Homo sapiens: one gene and its partners. The protein of the gene in region 1 interacts with the protein of each later gene in a biochemical or structural test. Each region holds a gene or a part of one and is shown in the gene's direction. Other genes may lie near its edges. The genes, in order: ROBO4, RXRA and THRB.

Region 1 (7,437 bases):
TTCATCAAAAGTGGAATATTTGTACATCTCAAGACCTAGGTATTCTACTCCTAGGTTTATTTTCTAGAGAAACTCTTAACTGGTTATACTAGGGGATATATAAAATAGAGATTCAGAGCAGCACTGTTTATAATAGAAAAAGAACCACTTGATATACTACATATTCAAGAAAAAGACCCACTTGATATACTACAAAGACACTCCTCTGCAAAGAATCATTGCATGTCCTTTCTTCCCAACAGCACCCAATTTTGAGTGAAGCCTCACTTCCCTGGACCCTCCACGAAATCACCCAATCAAAGCCCAAATCCTAGAATAGGTTCTTTCTAACATCTCTCTTACTTAGACATTCCATAGTTCTCCATGGCATGCACTCTCTCAAGCTGCAAGAAGTAAATCAACTTGTTCAACAATAGGTATGTTCCTGATGGTCTTTGACTGGAGGGCATTGACAGGGTGAACACAAAGCACAGTAACAGATCTCCCCTTCTTCCTGGACATGTGAGCAAATGGTTAAATATTGATGTCAGCAGCCCTTGAAATCTCCAACTGGGCAATGTTTAAGCTAGGTGTGATCCATAGTCATTGGTGTCGAGAAAGTTAAGAAAATGTAGGGTTGAGAGTATTCGATGTGATTTTAGATTCCAAGCACCTAAAATCACCCATGATGTTGATGGGACCAGAAACTAGGGAATAGATGCTGTCCAGTGAAGTGGCCTTAGGGTGAGTTTTCCAGCCAGCTAAGAGGAGGTTTTTACTGTCTTCTCTCTTGACTCAATTTCCCTCCAGCTGTTGGCATCTTGGAACAAACTTGAGAATTTATAGATTGAGACCAAGCAGACTCAAGCAAAAAAGGGGAAAAAACAAGAAGGCAAAAAGTGTGAGTCTCAAATCCAAAAAGAGTATCAAGGGGTAGCTGGGACTGGCTATGGCTGTGTTGGTCAGGCATGCTGATCCCAGAACACTCAAAGGACAACTAACACATATCTAGTGTTTTCAGAGAACTTTCATGTCCATTGTCTGTAAACCTCATGCAGACATTTTACAAATGAGGGCAGTGGGACTCAGAGAGGTTATGTGACTTACTCAAGATTTCTCTGCCAATAAGAAGTGGAAGCAGGATCTCAACCCCAGTGTAACTGACTCCAAATCCCACCTGAGTTTATCCCTTTTTCTCCACCAGCTTGGCCAGCAGGAGTCTCAGATTGCATCTTCAGAGATCACAGAGCAGAAAGCCAAAGAAGCCAGGAGCCAGACATTGAAGAGAAATTTCCTCTGGAGGCTTGCTCAGAAGGGCACCTGGTGCTTCCCCTCTCTTCTCCCTCTTACAAGCAACGAAGGGGGAGTTAGAAAACACAAAACACCAGAACTAGGGATGAAGGAAGGCACTGCTTAAACTGGTCACCAGGACAGCACATCACCAGAGCCCCAGAACAGAGCTTCTCTGAAATAGCAATTGGGGCGGCTCCCACCAAGCCACATCATCCCCATGACTCATGCAGTCGGCTCTTCCTTAGTTTGTGGAAATGAGACAATGAGGATGCGGATGCACCAGGTTGCTGGAAATGAGCCCTGCAGTCTCTGGGAGCCATCCAGACATACCCTACTGTTGGGAAGTCCCCTCGGCCACCACCGCATGTCACTCTGAGTGCCCTGGAGAAAAAGTTCTAGTGTCCTGCAGGAACAACTGAGGAATCTGCCCCTCCAATCACCTTCAGGTGTTAGCACCTAGCTCTCCAAAACCTGGGAGTAGGGTGAGGCTCTGCTGAAGGTGATCTCCAGGCACGGGGCATGTGACTGTGGGGCAGGGGACATTCCTCGGGCTGCAGGAGCCTCTGGGGCTCTGTCCCTGCGGTGCACACAGACCGTTTCACCTCTCCTTTCTCACCCTGCTGAGGACGGGGCTAGTGATGGATTGGAATTCCTTTGAGATTTGCCTTATTTTCCCCTGAGGGAAACCTAGCGTCTTTCTGGATTGTGGAGACTGGAGTAAAATCCAGTTGGCATTAAAACATTAGCGAGCACTTAATTAGTGTCCCCAAAACCAATGTAGAAGCAGAGGAGACTAAAAGCAGACTGCTGACAGTGACATTCTTGATAAGCTGATAGTCAGGGAGTCAGACAGTCTTGGAGGCTTTGTACCTGGGAAATCCCAAATTGGCCTCCTGTGCAGTAAATCCTCCAATCCCACCACATCCTTTCCTGTCTCATCCTCAGCTGACTTCAGTGTCACATGAATCTCCCCTTCATCACTCTGGCCCCACAGATCCTTGACCCCATAAACTCGACTCCATTCTGCCTGCCCCACAATAAATACACGTTAGCTCAGCTTTACGGATCACTCATAATGCATCAGGCACTGGATGCCAGTGGTTTTATGCTTTATGTATTTCATCATTACTTTATCCCTCAAGGTAGGAACTACTATTACTATTTCCATTTTACAGAGAACTACTATTACTATTTCCATTTTACAGATTTGCCCAAGGTCTCCACAGAAGCTGATTTCATCCATCTCTGAGCTGAATATGGACACATCCTGTGGGAATCTCCCAGCTTATCCCAGACGCTCTGAGTCCTTCTTGTCTCCCACCCTACTCCACCTAGTGGTCCATCTGCCCCTGGGGAAATGGACCAGGGCGTTACAATCCACCCCTGCTCCACTTCACTCAGCCTCTCCAGCCTGCAGCCCCACTGCCCTCTGTCCTCAGCTTCTTGCTGTGTCCTGAGACTCCCGGGGTTTTCATTCCTCTCTAGCAGGTGGTAAAGGGATAAGGATTGGGATCCAGGGATAAGATTTAAATAGAGGATTAAGGCTCTGATTGGAGTTATGGTTAGTGTAAGGATACACCCACAGAATTTGGGGTAGGAATTGGGGCCAGAGAACAGAATTTGGGATTTCAGAATTAGAGGTGCCAAGGGTAGTGACATTCTGTTCTCTGGCCCCAATTCCTATCCTTCCAGCTCTGCCACTCCATGACTTTCACTCTGCCTATTCTTTAGCCTCTGCAAACTCCCCAGTTTGTAGAGACCATGGTGTTTCCTTGCTCCAGTTCTGTCTTTGTCAGTATTGGTCTGAGTTTGAGAGGAAAGAGGAGGAGTGAAGGAGACTTCTACTTGGCAGGCTGTTAGTCTGTGGCTGGCACCGAAGCCAGGATGGGAAGGGGGAGGAAGGGAGGGCGTCAGCTGGGTTAGGGGCCCTGCAGAGAAGCTGGCCAGGAACAATTGGGAACAAAGGCTGGATACTCTTCCGCTGAGCCCCAGAGCCTGGCCTTGGCCTTCCGGGAACAGCTCCAGGAAATGGCTGAGATTCCAGATTTGGAAGGAAGAGGCCAGTAAACATGAGCTGGGATCTGACAGGGGAGTGTGGCCTCTGTCTAGGTTGTGGGGGAAAGGAGGCAGCGGGCAAGAGCTGACATTGTAGGCTCAAAACCTGCAAGGCCTGTCTGCTACATATATGGACACAGGCTCTTGGGACTGGAAAGACTCTTAAAAGGTCTTTTACTCCAACCACCTTTCCAGGGCCTGAAAAATACTCCTGCCGAGGATCCTCCAATAGTTTCAGTGATGGGATGGGCCTAAAAAGAAATACACAATGTTGGCTCAGCTTTACGGATCACTCATAATGAGTCAGGCACTGGATGCCAGTGGTTTTATGCTTTATGTGTTTCATCATTACTTTATCCCTCAAGGTAGGAACTACTATTATTATTTCCATTTTACAGAGAAGGAAACTGACTTGCCCAAGTTCTCCACAGAAGCTTATTTCATCCATCTCTGAGCTGAATATGGACACACCCTGTGGTAATCTCCCAGCTTGTCCCAGATGCTGAGTCCTTCCTGTCTCCCACCCTACGCCACCTCCTGGTCCATCTGGCACTGGGGAAATGGATGAGGGTGTTACAATCCACCCCTGCTCCACTTCACTCAGCCTCCCCAGCCTGCAGCCCCACTGCCCTCTGTCTTCAGCTTCTTGCTGTGTCCTGAGACTCCTGGGGTTTTCACTCTTCTCTAGCAGGTGTCAAAGGGATAAGGATTGGGATCCAGGGATAAGATTTAAATAGAGGATTAAGGCTCTGATCGGAGTTTTGGTTAGTGTAAGGATACCCTGTAAGAAATCCCCGAGTAGATCATGAGATAAAGCTTAGCGCTGAAGTTAGGGTCGGGGGTTATAGCTAAATGGTCGAGGTCAGAGAGTTTCTCGCCTCTGGTCTCCTCCCAGTTCTCCAAGGCACTGAGGGCCAGGCAGGAAGCATCGGTTTCCTCAAAGCCGCTTCCCTCCTGGGGCAGAGTCTCGGTCACAAACAACCACCACCGGCCCACCCCGCCCCTCCTTCCCTCTTCACTGTGAGCTCAGAGCAGCAGGACAAAGTGCTCGGGACAAGGACATAGGGCTGAGAGTAGCCATGGGCTCTGGAGGAGACAGCCTCCTGGGGGGCAGGGGTTCCCTGCCTCTGCTGCTCCTGCTCATCATGGGTGAGTTGCTCTCCCTCTCCTGGCCCATGCTCCTCCATCCAAGGCCTGCTCAGGGCAGAAGGGGCCTGCTGACTGCCTGCTTCCCTTTTGCAGTGGGGGGACCAGAGATGAGGATGAGGATGATGATGATGAGTGTGTGTAAGTGTATGTGTGTTTGTGCATGTGCGCACACACCAGAGAGAGAAAGAAGGAAAGAGAGACTGAGAGAGAAAGAAAGAAAGAGAGAAAGTAAGAGAGAGAGAGAGAGAGAGAGAGCGAACATGCTATGCAAGCCCTGGCCTGGATGCTGTGCATGCTGGCCCTCTCTCCTCCTAGCTGGCTTGTTCTTTGGGAGGCAACCTTTAGTAGTTCAGATTACAGGTTTTCTGGCAAACTCGCACACAAGAGAAGACAGATGAGGGGTGGGCCAGGAATTTGGGGTGTTGCTGGTGATCAGACTGGGCTCTGCTCCCTTTCCCTCCCAGGAGGCATGGCTCAGGACTCCCCGCCCCAGATCCTAGTCCACCCCCAGGACCAGCTGTTCCAGGGCCCTGGCCCTGCCAGGATGAGCTGCCAAGCCTCAGGCCAGCCACCTCCCACCATCCGCTGGTTGCTGAATGGGCAGCCCCTGAGCATGGTGCCCCCAGACCCACACCACCTCCTGCCTGATGGGACCCTTCTGCTGCTACAGCCCCCTGCCCGGGGACATGCCCACGATGGCCAGGCCCTGTCCACAGACCTGGGTGTCTACACATGTGAGGCCAGCAACCGGCTTGGCACGGCAGTCAGCAGAGGCGCTCGGCTGTCTGTGGCTGGTGAGGCCTGGGAGGGGAGCTTCAGGGTGGGGCAAACCTGGGTGGAGACATCTGAGCTGAATGTTCAAGGGAACATCTGAGAGGTCAGTGGGATACCTGTGAGCAGAGGCCTGGGCTGGAAGGCTTGGGAGGGCAAGCTGGGGCGGGGCTGGCCCTAAATGGGAGGCCAGGAAGGTGGGCAAAGCAGAAGGGGGCAAGAGTGATAAGGGAGAGAGAAGAGGCCTGGGCCCTGCTCCGTGTCACCTTCCATCCTCCCCACAGTCCTCCGGGAGGATTTCCAGATCCAGCCTCGGGACATGGTGGCTGTGGTGGGTGAGCAGTTTACTCTGGAATGTGGGCCGCCCTGGGGCCACCCAGAGCCCACAGTCTCATGGTGGAAAGATGGGAAACCCCTGGCCCTCCAGCCCGGAAGGCACACAGTAAGTGTGGCCCCCTCCCCCACACTTCATCCTGGCCTGGGCAGACCTGGGTACACCCTGATGGACTGACCTGCCGTCCAGCCCCGCATCCTCCGGTAGAATTTGAGGAGGGGAGAGCAGGGGGCCTCAAACTTCCCCCCAGCTCAGAGCCCCTCCCCACATAGGAGACTTCACAGTGAACCTGGCCCTGACAGGTGTCCGGGGGGTCCCTGCTGATGGCAAGAGCAGAGAAGAGTGACGAAGGGACCTACATGTGTGTGGCCACCAACAGCGCAGGACATAGGGAGAGCCGCGCAGCCCGGGTTTCCATCCAGGGTAAGGGCAGGGGTGGGCTACAATCAGAGCCAGGCTGCAGGCTCCAGTTGGGGTGGTGTATTCTGGTTTGGGCTGGGGTTAAGGTATGTGGGGTCAGGGTCAAAGTGCTGGGGGTCTCACGTAGCGGGAGGTTCCCCCCTGCTAGAGTAGAAATCGGAATGCTCAAGACCTGGAGACTCTGGGAGTTTGGGTTCCCTGGGGTTCCTCCCTGGCTGAGGGATGTTCCACGCCTCAGTTCTGTCACTCTGGCCTATAAGCCCCAGCCCAGCCCTATCCTCCCCACAGAGCCCCAGGACTACACGGAGCCTGTGGAGCTTCTGGCTGTGCGAATTCAGCTGGAAAATGTGACACTGCTGAACCCGGATCCTGCAGAGGGCCCCAAGCCTAGACCGGCGGTGTGGCTCAGCTGGAAGGTGAGGACCAGGTGCTAAGGGTAAAAGCCGATCCAGAGCTCAAGAAAGGGCGTTCCTGAGCTCTCTGACCCCCCGCCCTTCCTCGAAACTCCTTCCCAGGTCAGTGGCCCTGCTGCGCCTGCCCAATCTTACACGGCCTTGTTCAGGACCCAGACTGCCCCGGGAGGCCAGGGAGCTCCGTGGGCAGAGGAGCTGCTGGCCGGCTGGCAGAGCGCAGAGCTTGGAGGCCTCCACTGGGGCCAAGACTACGAGTTCAAAGTGAGACCATCCTCTGGCCGGGCTCGAGGCCCTGACAGCAACGTGCTGCTCCTGAGGCTGCCGGAAAAAGGTCAGGGCCTGATCCCTTCAGAAGCCAACAATATCCCCTCTGGCTCCTTCTTATTTGGGGGCCCCTGGACTGTTCTGCTTCAGTCTTGAGGGGAGATTATGGGTCCTACCCTGGGACTCCCTTCTGCCCTGGCCAGGCCAGCAGAGCTTCAAGAGGCTTCTTGTCTCTTCAGTAGGGTTCTGACGCTGTGTCCCCCAGCCCAGCTCCTTTCCCTAGAGTCCTCTCCCTCAGAGCCCCTCATAGTCTCTCTTCCACCCCTCCAGTGCCCAGTGCCCCACCTCAGGAAGTGACTCTAAAGCCTGGCAATGGCACTGTCTTTGTGAGCTGGGTCCCACCACCTGCTGAAAACCACAATGGCATCATCCGTGGCTACCAGGTACCCCCACTAGCTGTCATAGCCCTTCCTACTGCTGCCAGGACATCTCTTTTCTCTGGAGTTCTGCATACCCTTGCTCTGGGCACTGAGAAAGGTACCTGGGCAGAGAAGCAAAGGAAACCTGCTTTTGCTGAGCAAGGACCCACTGGCTTCCAGACCCTGCCAAGCACTTGACCTCCATGATCCCGTTTTACCTCACAGTCCACCCTGGGGTATTATCCCCAATTTACAGACATGGAAAGTGGGGCAAAGGCCACAGGAATAAGAAACAGAGTAGATCAAACCAGGCTGTGAGTCAGGGAGTGGGGCTCAAAGT
Region 2 (6,749 bases), on another chromosome or scaffold:
TTGCACCTGGCGCATAGTAGGTGCTTCTCTTTGTTCAGTAGATAGATGAAGGCTGTGCTTCACCCCCCACTGCGCTCCCCTACCAAGCAGAACCACCAGAGGCCAGGCGACACCAGCACATAGTAGGTACTTCACAAGCATGTGTAGAATGGATGGCCAGATGCCCACACATACTAAACACTCTCTACAAGTGTGTACGGAATAGGCGGTCACGGCCTGAGCGTAGCGCTCATGTTTCCCCCCTGCCCGGCTGTGGGCCCTGGAAGGGCTGGGGCTCCCTCATTTCTGAGTCCACAGTGCTGGGTGCACAGTAGGTGTCCAGGAAGAGAAACGTTTGTGGATCCCTGCCTGGGATTCAAAGTCAGCGCTCCAGATTCTGCCTCTTCTCTCTAAAGGGGCATCTCCTGGCCTCTTGATCCTCAGACTGTGGGGCGGGGAGGGGGTCGGGGGAGGTGGGGCCCAGCAGACCTCATAGGACACCCAGGCCTTCCCGCCACCAGCACATACACAGTTAACCGTGTCCCCGCTGCCTGCCCAGCCCTCATCTGGCTTGGTTTAAAGTGAAACTTCCCGGAGGACGAGGACAGGAGGGGGTGGCAGGCAGCTTGTTTTTCCTGGCTTTCTGCCCTGGCCCATCTCGCCAGCTCAGCAGAAAACAGCTTGTTCTCTGGCCCAACTCCAGCCTCTGCGCTGTTTTTGCCTTTAAAACAAGGCCTGTGAGGCAGCCAACCACAGAGCTTTTCCCTGAAAGAAAGACTTCGTTAATAATTAATGAGGTCCTGCAGCCCCTGGAGGGGCCGTGTGGAGAGACTCAGGCCGTGCACAGGGGCCCTGGGCAGACACGGCCAGCCGGAAGGGACACCTGGTTCCGTCCCCATAGCACCCTGTCCTCAGCGGCAGCTGCTGCCCTCATGCCTGGCCCTGCTATCCCTCTTCCCAGAGCCCCAGACTTCCCCCCTCCCTCCCGCCCCCCCACTGGTCCCTGCCCCAGGAAACTCCCCAGGGATGGGCCAGGCCCTGAGGACCAACCCGTGCTCCCTCCCTCCCCGGCCAGCCTTCTCTGACCATGCTGTGCCCAATGCCAGCAGAGCTATTTCTGAGGAAGGGGTGGCCCTGGTCTGGGGCCCACAGCCCTGCACAAGGTGCCGTGGGAGGCACTCATGGGGTGCTGATGCTTTATGGAAAGGGTCTTGCACCGTTACACAGCTCCCAAGTCAGGCCTGGCTCCACCTGCAGTGGGGGTGCAGCCTGACTCCCCCTCCCCCGCCTGATGCTCTTTGACTTCTTGGTTGCCCACCATGTGCCGGGCCTGTTCCCTGCGACTCACCAGTGTGCTCAGCAGCCCTTTCCCTTACAAGCCCCGCAGTCTCTTGCTGTGATGGCTGCTGCAGCCAGATGCATTACTGATACTCACACCCGCTCCCGGCTGTCATGGCCCACAGTTTTTCATTTTTTGAGAGACAGTCTGGCTGTGTCGCCCAGGCTGGAGTGCAGTGCTGCGATCGTAGCTCATTGCAGCCTCAACCTCCTGGGCTCAAGCGGTCCTCCCTGCAGGCATGCACCACCACGCCTTGCTACTGTTTTTCTCTTTTTCTTTTGTAGAGACAGGGTCTCACTGCGTTGCCCAGGCTGGTCTCGAACTCCTGGCCTCAAGCCATCCTCCCACCTCGGCCTCTCAAAGTGCTGAGATTACAAGTGTGAGCCATCATGCCCAACTGCCTGCAATTTTTAACTTCTTCACAAAGAGCTATTCAGTCTGCCCTAGCCAGCTGCTGTCTGGCCCCTGGCCCTTCATCTCCGTCCTCAGACCCAGGGATCTCCCTTCACTCTGTCCTGGCTCTGGGTTGCCACTGCCTCTGTTTCCTTCTAGCCTCCCCTCCTTCCTTCTGGAGGCTTGGCATAGGCAGATTCAGGGCTACAGACCAGCCTCAGAGGGGTTGGGGTATCAGACACAGCCCCATCCCCAGGGAGGCCTCCAGTGCCAGGGCAGAACTGCCCATGCCCCTTGCCCGGCCCTCACCAGACCTGTTCCCTGCAGGTTCGCTAAGCTCTTGCTCCGCCTGCCGGCTCTGCGCTCCATCGGGCTCAAATGCCTGGAACATCTCTTCTTCTTCAAGCTCATCGGGGACACACCCATTGACACCTTCCTTATGGAGATGCTGGAGGCGCCGCACCAAATGACTTAGGCCTGCGGGCCCATCCTTTGTGCCCACCCGTTCTGGCCACCCTGCCTGGACGCCAGCTGTTCTTCTCAGCCTGAGCCCTGTCCCTGCCCTTCTCTGCCTGGCCTGTTTGGACTTTGGGGCACAGCCTGTCACTGCTCTGCCTAAGAGATGTGTTGTCACCCTCCTTATTTCTGTTACTACTTGTCTGTGGCCCAGGGCAGTGGCTTTCCTGAGGCAGCAGCCTTCGTGGCAAGAACTAGCGTGAGCCCAGCCAGGCGCCTCCCCACCGGGCTCTCAGGACACCCTGCCACACCCCACGGGGCTTGGGCGACTACAGGGTCTTCGGGCCCCAGCCCTGGAGCTGCAGGAGTTGGGAACGGGGCTTTTGTTTCCGTTGCTGTTTATCGATGCTGGTTTTCAGAATTCCTGTGTGGCCCTCCTGTCTGGAGTGACATCTTCATCTGCTCTGAATACTGGTGCCCAGCCAGCCCGTGACAGCTTCCCCCTAATCAGGAGGGGACAGCTGGGGGCGCAAGCTGGTGTGTCATCAGCAAAGACCTCAGCCGCCTCGGGGATGAGAGGGGACTCGTGGGGCAAGCAAGCTGCCCTGTGCTCTGAGTGAGGGGGAAGGTAGCCCCTTTTTCCAAAGATAACTCACAGTTTTGCCCTCGAGCCAATGAGAACATGAGCTGCCCTCTGTGCAAGGTTTCGGGGCCACCTCCAGGCTGCAGGGGCGGGTCACTCACCCCCCTGTTTTCTCTCTGCCTTGGTGTTCTGGTTTCAGACTCCCGACTCCCCGTTCAGACCAGAGTGCCCCGGCCCCTCCCCAGCCTGAGTCTTCTCCTTGCTCTGCGGGGTGGGCTGAGGCTTGTCCTTGTTTCCTGCAGGGCTGGCCCTGGCTCGGGCAGGGTGGGGCATCACCACCTCACTGGCCTTGCTGGAGGCACAGGGCTCTGCGGACCTGCAGCCATCTGTGAGGCCCGCGGGGATGGGAGGGGAGGAGGGTGGCCTGTTGGTTTCCCTCAGAGGGGGCAGGTGGCCTGGAGAGAGAGGGGCTCAGGAACTGGGAGCCTCGTGGGTGGGGCAGATGCTCCGCGGCCTGGAGTGGCTCTGCCGGGGCATTGGTGGGACCCCTGCTCAGGCCTTCTCTCTGGCTGCCAGTTGTGTCTAAAAGACTCTTGGAATCTGAGAACCCGGAGTCGCAGCGCCCTCGGGCCTGGGCCACACGCAGGCCCTGGTGGGACCACCCAGCCTGGTATTGTCCACGGACAGCGTTGTTCACCCAGAGCCTTACTTGGGAGCCTCACTGAACGCCTGCTCTGGTTGAAGGTGGGGTGGGGGCGGGGCTTGGGGCCTCCCTGGCTCAGCCCAGTGCGGCCTGGCGCTCCTCCCGCAGGCTCTGCCCCCGGGCTCCGGTGGTGCGGGGCCCTCTCAGGTTGAACTCGCCTCTTTTGCACTGGAAGGCCCTCCCTTTGGCCTGAGTACTTTTCCCGTTCACGCCTCAGTCCCGTGGACCCAGCCTTTGTCAGTGGCAGGTGCCTGAACAGAGGGTGGATGGGGGGGATACCGGAGGGGGTCTTGTCTTCCCAGCCGCAGTCTAGGAATGATGCGGGGGGGTGGACGCCTTCTCCATAGTCTTTCCCCACCTGGAGCAGGGGCTTCCTCAGTGGTGAGGGGAGCTGCCTACAGGTTGGACCGGGAGGCAGTGGCTTGGAGAGGCAGCTTTCCAGCCTTGGTGGGGAAGAAAGTGTCCATTCTTTGCCTTCCTGGAGCTCCCAGCCAGAGCTGAGCTTAGGCACCCGAGTGGAGCCTGCAGCTGAGTCTGTGCCCGAGACAGGCTGTCAGAGATTCCAGAAGCCTCTCCTCCCCGCCGCCCTCCACCCCTGCCTTTCAGCGTTGTGGATCCCTAGAGGTGGCCCCCTGCCCGATCCACCGTCCTGAGGCAGAGTGTTGAGCCTCATACCTGTACCAGGTCCCCGGCCAGCTGGGCCCCTCCCAGGCACTGCCAGGAAGCCCCAGCTGCCCCTGGCGGGTGTGGTGGAAATGGCAGGAGGGTGCAGGTACTCTTGGGGCCCCAGCGGTGGGAGTGCAAAAGACCCAACGCCAACACCTGGTGCCTTCTGCAGCCAGCGCCCACCCATCCGTGCCCGGACCCTTGGGAATGCCCGCGGCTCCAGAGGAAAAAGCCCAGGGACGGGGCCTCCGTTGCGGGGGGTCGGCTGCTTCTTGGGAACTTTGTCGTTTCCGGCGCTGGCTGGCTGGCTGGCTGGCTGTAAAGCACTGAAGCCCCCCGGCCGCCAACCCCTGAAAGCAGAACCTGGCCTCCCTGGCCACAGCAGCCTTACCCACCGCTCTACGTGTCCCGGGCACTTCCCGCAGCCTTCCCGTCCCTTTCTCATCGGCCTTGTAGTTGTACAGTGCTGTTGGTTTGAAAAGGTGATGTGTGGGGAGTGCGGCTCATCACTGAGTAGAGAGGTAGAATTTCTATTTAACCAGACCTGTAGTAGTATTACCAATCCAGTTCAATTAAGGTGATTTTTTGTAATTATTATTATTTTGGTGGGACAATCTTTAATTTTCTAAAGATAGCACTAACATCAGCTCATTAGCCACCTGTGCCTGTCCCCGCCTTGGCCCGGCTGGATGAAGCGGCTTCCCCGCAGGGCCCCCACTTCCCAGTGGCTGCTTCCTGGGGACCCAGGGCACCCCGGCACCTTCAGGCACGCTCCTCAGCTGGTCACCTCCCGGCTTTGCCGTTCAGATGGGGCTCCTGAGGCTCAGGAGTGAAGATGCCACAGAGCCGGGCTCCCCTAGGCTGCGTCGGGCATGCTTGGAAGCTGGCCTGCCAGGACCTTCCACCCTGGGGCCTGTGTCAGCCGCCGGCCCTCCGCACCCTGGAAGCACACGGCCTCTGGGAAGGACAGCCCTGACCTTCGGTTTTCCGAGCACGGTGTTTCCCAAGAATTCTGGGCTGGCGGCCTGGTGGCAGTGCTGGAGATGACCCCGAGCCCCTCCCCGTGGGGCACCCAGGAGGGCCCTGCCGGAATGTGCAGCCTGTGGGTAGTCGGCTGGTGTCCCTGTCGTGGAGCTGGGGTGCGTGATCTGGTGCTCGTCCACGCAGGTGTGTGGTGTAAACATGTATGTGCTGTACAGAGAGACGCGTGTGGAGAGAGCCGCACACCAGCGCCACCCAGGAAAGGCGGAGCGGTTACCAGTGTTTTGTGTTTATTTTTAATCAAGACGTTTCCCCTGTTTTCCTATAAATTTGCTTCGTGTAAGCAAGTACATAAGGACCCTCCTTTGGTGAAATCCGGGTTCGAATGAATATCTCAAGGCAGGAGATGCATCTATTTTAAGATGCTTTGGAGCAGACAGCTTTAGCCGTTCCCAATCCTTAGCAATGCCTTAGCTGGGACGCATAGCTAATACTTTAGAGAGGATGACAGATCCATAAAGAGAGTAAAGATAAGAGAAAATGTCTAAAGCATCTGGAAAGGTAAAAAAAAAAAATCTATTTTTGTACAAATGTAATTTTATCCCTCATGTATACTTGGATATGGCGGGGGGAGGGCTGGGACTGTTTCGTTTCTGCTTCTAGAGATTGAGGTGAAAGCTTCGTCCGAGAAACGCCAGGACAGACGATGGCAGAGGAGAGGGCTCCTGTGACGGCGGCGAGGCTTGGGAGGAAACCGCCGCAATGGGGGTGTCTTCCCTCGGGGCAGGAGGGTGGGCCTGAGGCTTTCAAGGGTTTTCTTCCCTTTCGAGTAATTTTTAAAGCCTTGCTCTGTTGTGTCCTGTTGCCGGCTCTGGCCTTCCTGTGACTGACTGTGAAGTGGCTTCTCCGTACGATTGTCTCTGAAACATCGTGGCCTCAGGTGCCAGGGTTTGATGGACAGTAGCATTAGAATTGTGGAAAAGGAACACGCAAAGGGAGAAGTGTGAGAGGAGAAACAAAATATGAGCGTTTAAAATACATCGCCATTCAGTTCGTTTGTTCCGTGTGGGGACTTTTTTGTTTGGAGCGGGAGGGCCCGCGATCAGCCCCCACCAGCCCACCCTCCTGTCCACCCTACCTGCCGGTCCTGTGCGGCGAGGCTGGCATCCTCTGTGGGCCATACTCTTGAGAGTTCTCTCCCTGTCCACTGGGCTCTGCTGCTCCTCCAAGGGGCAGGGGGCTGGGGCCTCCGTGAGGGCACCTCTCAGCAGCCGTGGGCACTGGGCCTGTGGGCGCCTGCGGAGCACGAGTGTTCCCACCTGTCCCTCCCCAGGCTGCCTAAGCATCCACGCCTCTGCAGCCACGCTGGCCCAGATGGGCAGGAGGTGCACCCAGAGGGCCAAGGAACACACGATGTCACCCAGCTGCCCCAATAACAACAAGTTAATGATGCCCCATCTGCATTGTCTCCTGTGATAAACGCCCTCTGTCTCCATGCTGTCTGGGGCTGGGCTGCTCCCGGCCTGGTTTGGTCTTCGTGCCCGGAGCCCTCTCATGCACCTGTGTCCAGCCAGGCACCCTCCCCGAGAGGCACCAGACACACTGAAGATGGGGAGTGGGGCTCTGAAGGTCCAGGTCCTGCCCTGTGG
Region 3 (4,316 bases), on another chromosome or scaffold:
ACTGAAAATTCCAAGTATGATTGGAAATTATCTGGGAGCGGGGAATTAAATATTCAATGCATGAAAGCAATTGTACTGGCTTCTGGGAAAAAGGAAACAAGAACATTGCTATGGAACTTGTTACCCAGAGAAAGGAAGTGAAAAGATTTACAATTATAAGCACGAAATTCATTGGCAGATTACCTGCTTTATCTACAGACAGATTGTTTTGGGGTTTGGTTTTGTCTAGGCAGCCTCTGGCCAGGCTCCTTAATTGCTTGCTCTGCTAATATTTCAGCTTCCTCTCTTGACTCCTTGAGGAACCAACCGCTCTTTGGAAGACAAACACTTAGCCACCTCTGTGCTCCAGGGTAACCCTGAGAAGCTCTGCTGTCTGGGGCAAGCTTTCTTTCCAAAGGGAATGAGAGGAAGGCAAGCAGGCAGGGTCCTGCAGCGTCAGGCCTTCTGGGGAAAGTTTCCTCATTTTGTTTGACAGGGTCCTCAGTACATCAGACACCCAGATTTGAATATAAGTTCAGAGCCTGATCTCAAGCTAAATCAGAATGCTTTGGGGACTAACCATGATCGAGAATTGGCCAAATAGTATGGCATATAAACAGCCATCCAGCCAGCCGCAAGTAAAGGAACGTTTGATCCTTGGCACCTTAAATGATTGATTGCCTTCAATAGGCAAACTGCTGGTCTGGAAATCTCGTTGAAGGCTGAATACTTCATGCGGAGTAGGACAAGCCTTAGCCCACCTTCAGGTTGAAAGGAAAGGCCATAGGACTCAAAAGATAATGACTCTGAAACTAAACTCCTTCCTTCTGAAGCTGACAGAGGTACTTAGTGCATCTCAAGACTCCATCTCATAAAACTCATTTGTGAGGGATTTGCTCTAGATTTTTCTAAACATTTTTTCATCTATTGTCCAGACTTGCAAATCCAGTGTGGACCTGATGGAGATACCCTTCACACCTGCGCTCCCACCCCCTCGGCAGGGAGACGTCTCAGTAGAGGAGAACACACCCATTATGCTGGGATTTGTATTTATAAATCACTTCCCTTTTAGGGATGAGCGGTGTGGGGCGTGTGTGCGTGTGAGTGTATGCGCGTGCGTGTGTGACCCTCAAGTGTACTTTGCTCAATTTAGACGTGCAGTATTTCCAGAAACAATGAAAAAAGTAAGATGTTTTCTTCTTTATGATTCTGCTCAAAACACCACGTGCCGCCTCAGAGCTTTTTCTAGAGCCTCGGTCCTCAATGACGCGCTTGACCTGTTGATGCCTCAGCCCAGCGAAGCCCCTCACCTGTGCCCCGGGCGACAGCTCTTCAGTGTGCAGTGCAGGCCTGGGGTGGACTGCCAGGCCTTCGCTCTGTGCCAGCAACGCCGTTCTTGTTGCTCCTCCATGAACAGGGGTACAAGCCCTGGCCCCTCCTCGACACTAAGCCCCCCACAGACTCAGCCTCCAAGGAACCGCTGAGCACCCTTGAAGCATGTCATTGTCAGTGATACCTTTTTATTCTATGGAACTCTAACCTATTCGTGTCATATTGACCTTTTGCTGCATGAGTCATAAATTATGAAATCAGTCTTACAGTTTTTGAAATGTAGCCAGCATTTGTAAGGCTAAACCTTTTTCATGAACTGAATTTAAGTGAATAACCAAGCCACAGTTCCTCCTCAAATGGAGAGTGATGATCGACATTTGAATCTCTTTGCCCTTTCCAACGGCTATGGCATCAGGTTCTAAAATAAGCTCGTAATTTTTCCTGTTATTTTAATAATATGGAAATATTAGCATAGTGTTTCTTTTGATAGTGATAGACTATAATCCATATTTAAATTTTATAGAGAAGAAATTTTATTGTACTGTGATGTAGATATTTATTATCCAGGTAAGGATTTGCCCGGTGTGTATTTTTTACAATTGAGACATTTTACTTTAATCTTTAAAAAAAATGCATTAAAAACACACTCAAAAAAAAAAAAAAAAAAAAAAAAAAAAAACCAGACTGGGGGAAAAAAGGTTTGGCCTTATCACAGAATTTTTACTGTGCTGTATAAATGTTTGCAAATGCGAAAAGTGTGCATTTATAGTGTGTTTCCACATTAATTAATGCCGCCTTCAAGAGCAATATTGTGCAGGTAAAACGCTGTTTGTGGCTTTCTGTTGCACAGTTAAAGCTGACCCACCCTATGCACAAGACAATCAAATATAAATCTGTCCTCCTCAGGATGCAGATAATACTCATGTAAATTATGGAGCACAATGTAAGACAAAAGGAGACACTTTACATATGTATTGTTGATACAGAAATTATCAGGGCATGAATGAGCTGATGTGACATTATGCCACTTCTTTCTTTTGGTTCTCCCTTATTAACTTGGCATTTTTAATTTGACCATAGAGCCAAATTAGTTCTCCATGCTTTCTTCGTAGAAAATCCTTTTTTTTCCCATAATGTTTTCATGCCCTGAGAATCAGAAAAATACTACAGAATAGAAAAAGATTTACAGTCATTGGAAGATTTGTGTTTTGCAAACAGTGTTAAGTGATATTGCTAGATGGTGATATTTTTTTCAGCCTAAAACTCTGTTGAAATCTGTGATCAAAATGTTTTAAACTATCCAAAAAAAATTTGTATATTTGGGAAAAATGGATTTTTACATAGCTTTTGTATGCAGATATAAAACTGTAATTATGAATATAGTGGGCGTAGATAAACTCATAAGCTTAAATTCTAAAAAAGAAAAAGCTTATAACAGATATATTTTCCTGTCTCTTTCTTTAAATATTATTATTTTCTACATAGGCAAAGAGTTGCCTGCTCTTCTCACTTCAGCTGCTGCCAAAAGACGGAACCACGGATGTAAGGACATTTATTTCATAAATAAACATCTACTAGAATAAGCAAATTTACTTGAGAAGAAACTATGGAGGGAGAGAAGAAACTAAGTAAAATGCTGATGGGGGGTTACCTCTTTGGAAGGGGCCACAAAGATGAAGGGAGGAGAGAGGTGAAGTTTTGCAGCTCAAGGACAACATTCATCTTCTCATCTCAAATTATTCAGGAATATTACTAATGGAATTATGTTAACATCAGCTGCCAACATATATCTCAATCTCTGTTGCCCTGAACACATGTTAATTGAGATTCTTTCTATGACAAGTAACAAAAAGCTAACTCAAACTGGCTTAAGCAGAAAGCTAATTATTGACTTTAATATCTGGGATCTAGGGTATTGCATACCAAAGCTTCAGGCATGGCTGGATCTGGGTGCACTTACTCAGTATTCTCAGGAAGCTCCTTTTTTTGTCATTCATGTAGACTTAACATTCACATGGCCTTTCACCTTACGGTGGCCTCCAATAGCTCCAGGATGAGCTTTACAGCTCCAAATATAGTGAAAGGAGAATTTCTTTTCTCCAACAATTCTAATGAAAATTCTGGCCTAATTCTCACTGGCCCAAGTTCAGTCATGTGCCCATTCCTGAGCCAATCACTGTGGTGAGGAAAACAGATGCATAACCAACCTTATCCTCAGGAATCCTGGAACTGGGTGAGGGGAAAGAGGGACAGTCAGCTTCATCTAAACTATGGACTGAGAGTTGAGGCAAGATGATTCCTGAAAGAAAATTCTAAGTCTTGCTGCTATAAGTGGAAGAGAATGGTGGGCAAGCAAAAGCAACCAGTGCCCACACCAAAGGTAAATCTAAAACAACATCCCATTTCAGTACAGCAAGCGGTTCTCCTTCACACAGAGGAAGCTCATCTCCAAGTTTTTATTTGGCCAGGACATGAACCAAATAAACACCTTCCAAAGAAAGTGTTTGATCGCATTCTTCCTGGTTCGTGAAAACACCAGTTCAGGTAAGATGGGGCAAGCATCATTATTTCCCTAGGCTAGATCAGTTCAGAGTACTATTTTCTGAGTTTTTCCACTCTATATTCAAATGACTAAGATTAACCTTTATATATTTATCTCTTGTCTACATTATGTACCTCCCAACTTCCTCCTAATGAACATATTTCCCTCCTCCAAGAAATTACTGGATTCATTTATTGTGGAGAGCTGGAACATATATATTCCAGCTAGGTACAATTCTTAACCCCTTTACACAGGCAAAGCCAGAAGCTGTTGTCATGTCACAAACCTGGAAAAGTCTAATAATCTATGAAGAGAAGCCAGAGGACAAAGTTGGTTTGCTTCTCCACCCTCAAGATGACAGCTCACTCTGGTTTTTATGTTTAGACACTCAGGGCACCATAGCTTTGTAAATAAGGGGAATTGTCATCAGGTTTATGTACACAAATTCTGACACATTAAATGG

Evidence for each region.
Region 2: the proteins of ROBO4 (region 1) and RXRA form a complex in vitro, tested with the Homo sapiens proteins (one study listed by BioGRID).
Region 3: the proteins of ROBO4 (region 1) and THRB form a complex in vitro, tested with the Homo sapiens proteins (one study listed by BioGRID).

Annotation. Positions count from the first base shown.
Region 1 is NC_000011.10:124,894,765-124,902,201, reverse strand, and holds the start of ROBO4 (roundabout homolog 4 isoform 1 precursor), read left to right. Parts: upstream 1-4,336; 5' UTR 4,337-4,406; coding exon 4,407-4,476; intron 4,477-4,940; coding exon 4,941-5,270; intron 5,271-5,531; coding exon 5,532-5,689; intron 5,690-5,883; coding exon 5,884-6,004; intron 6,005-6,289; coding exon 6,290-6,417; intron 6,418-6,516; coding exon 6,517-6,745; intron 6,746-7,008; coding exon 7,009-7,121; intron 7,122-7,437.
Region 2 is NC_000009.12:134,434,429-134,441,177, forward strand, and holds the end of RXRA (retinoic acid receptor RXR-alpha), read left to right. Parts: intron 1-2,038; coding exon 2,039-2,186; 3' UTR 2,187-6,157; downstream 6,158-6,749. UniProt on the Homo sapiens protein: Receptor for retinoic acid that acts as a transcription factor.
Region 3 is NC_000003.12:24,116,648-24,120,963, reverse strand, and holds the end of THRB (thyroid hormone receptor beta), read left to right. Parts: 3' UTR 1-3,811; downstream 3,812-4,316.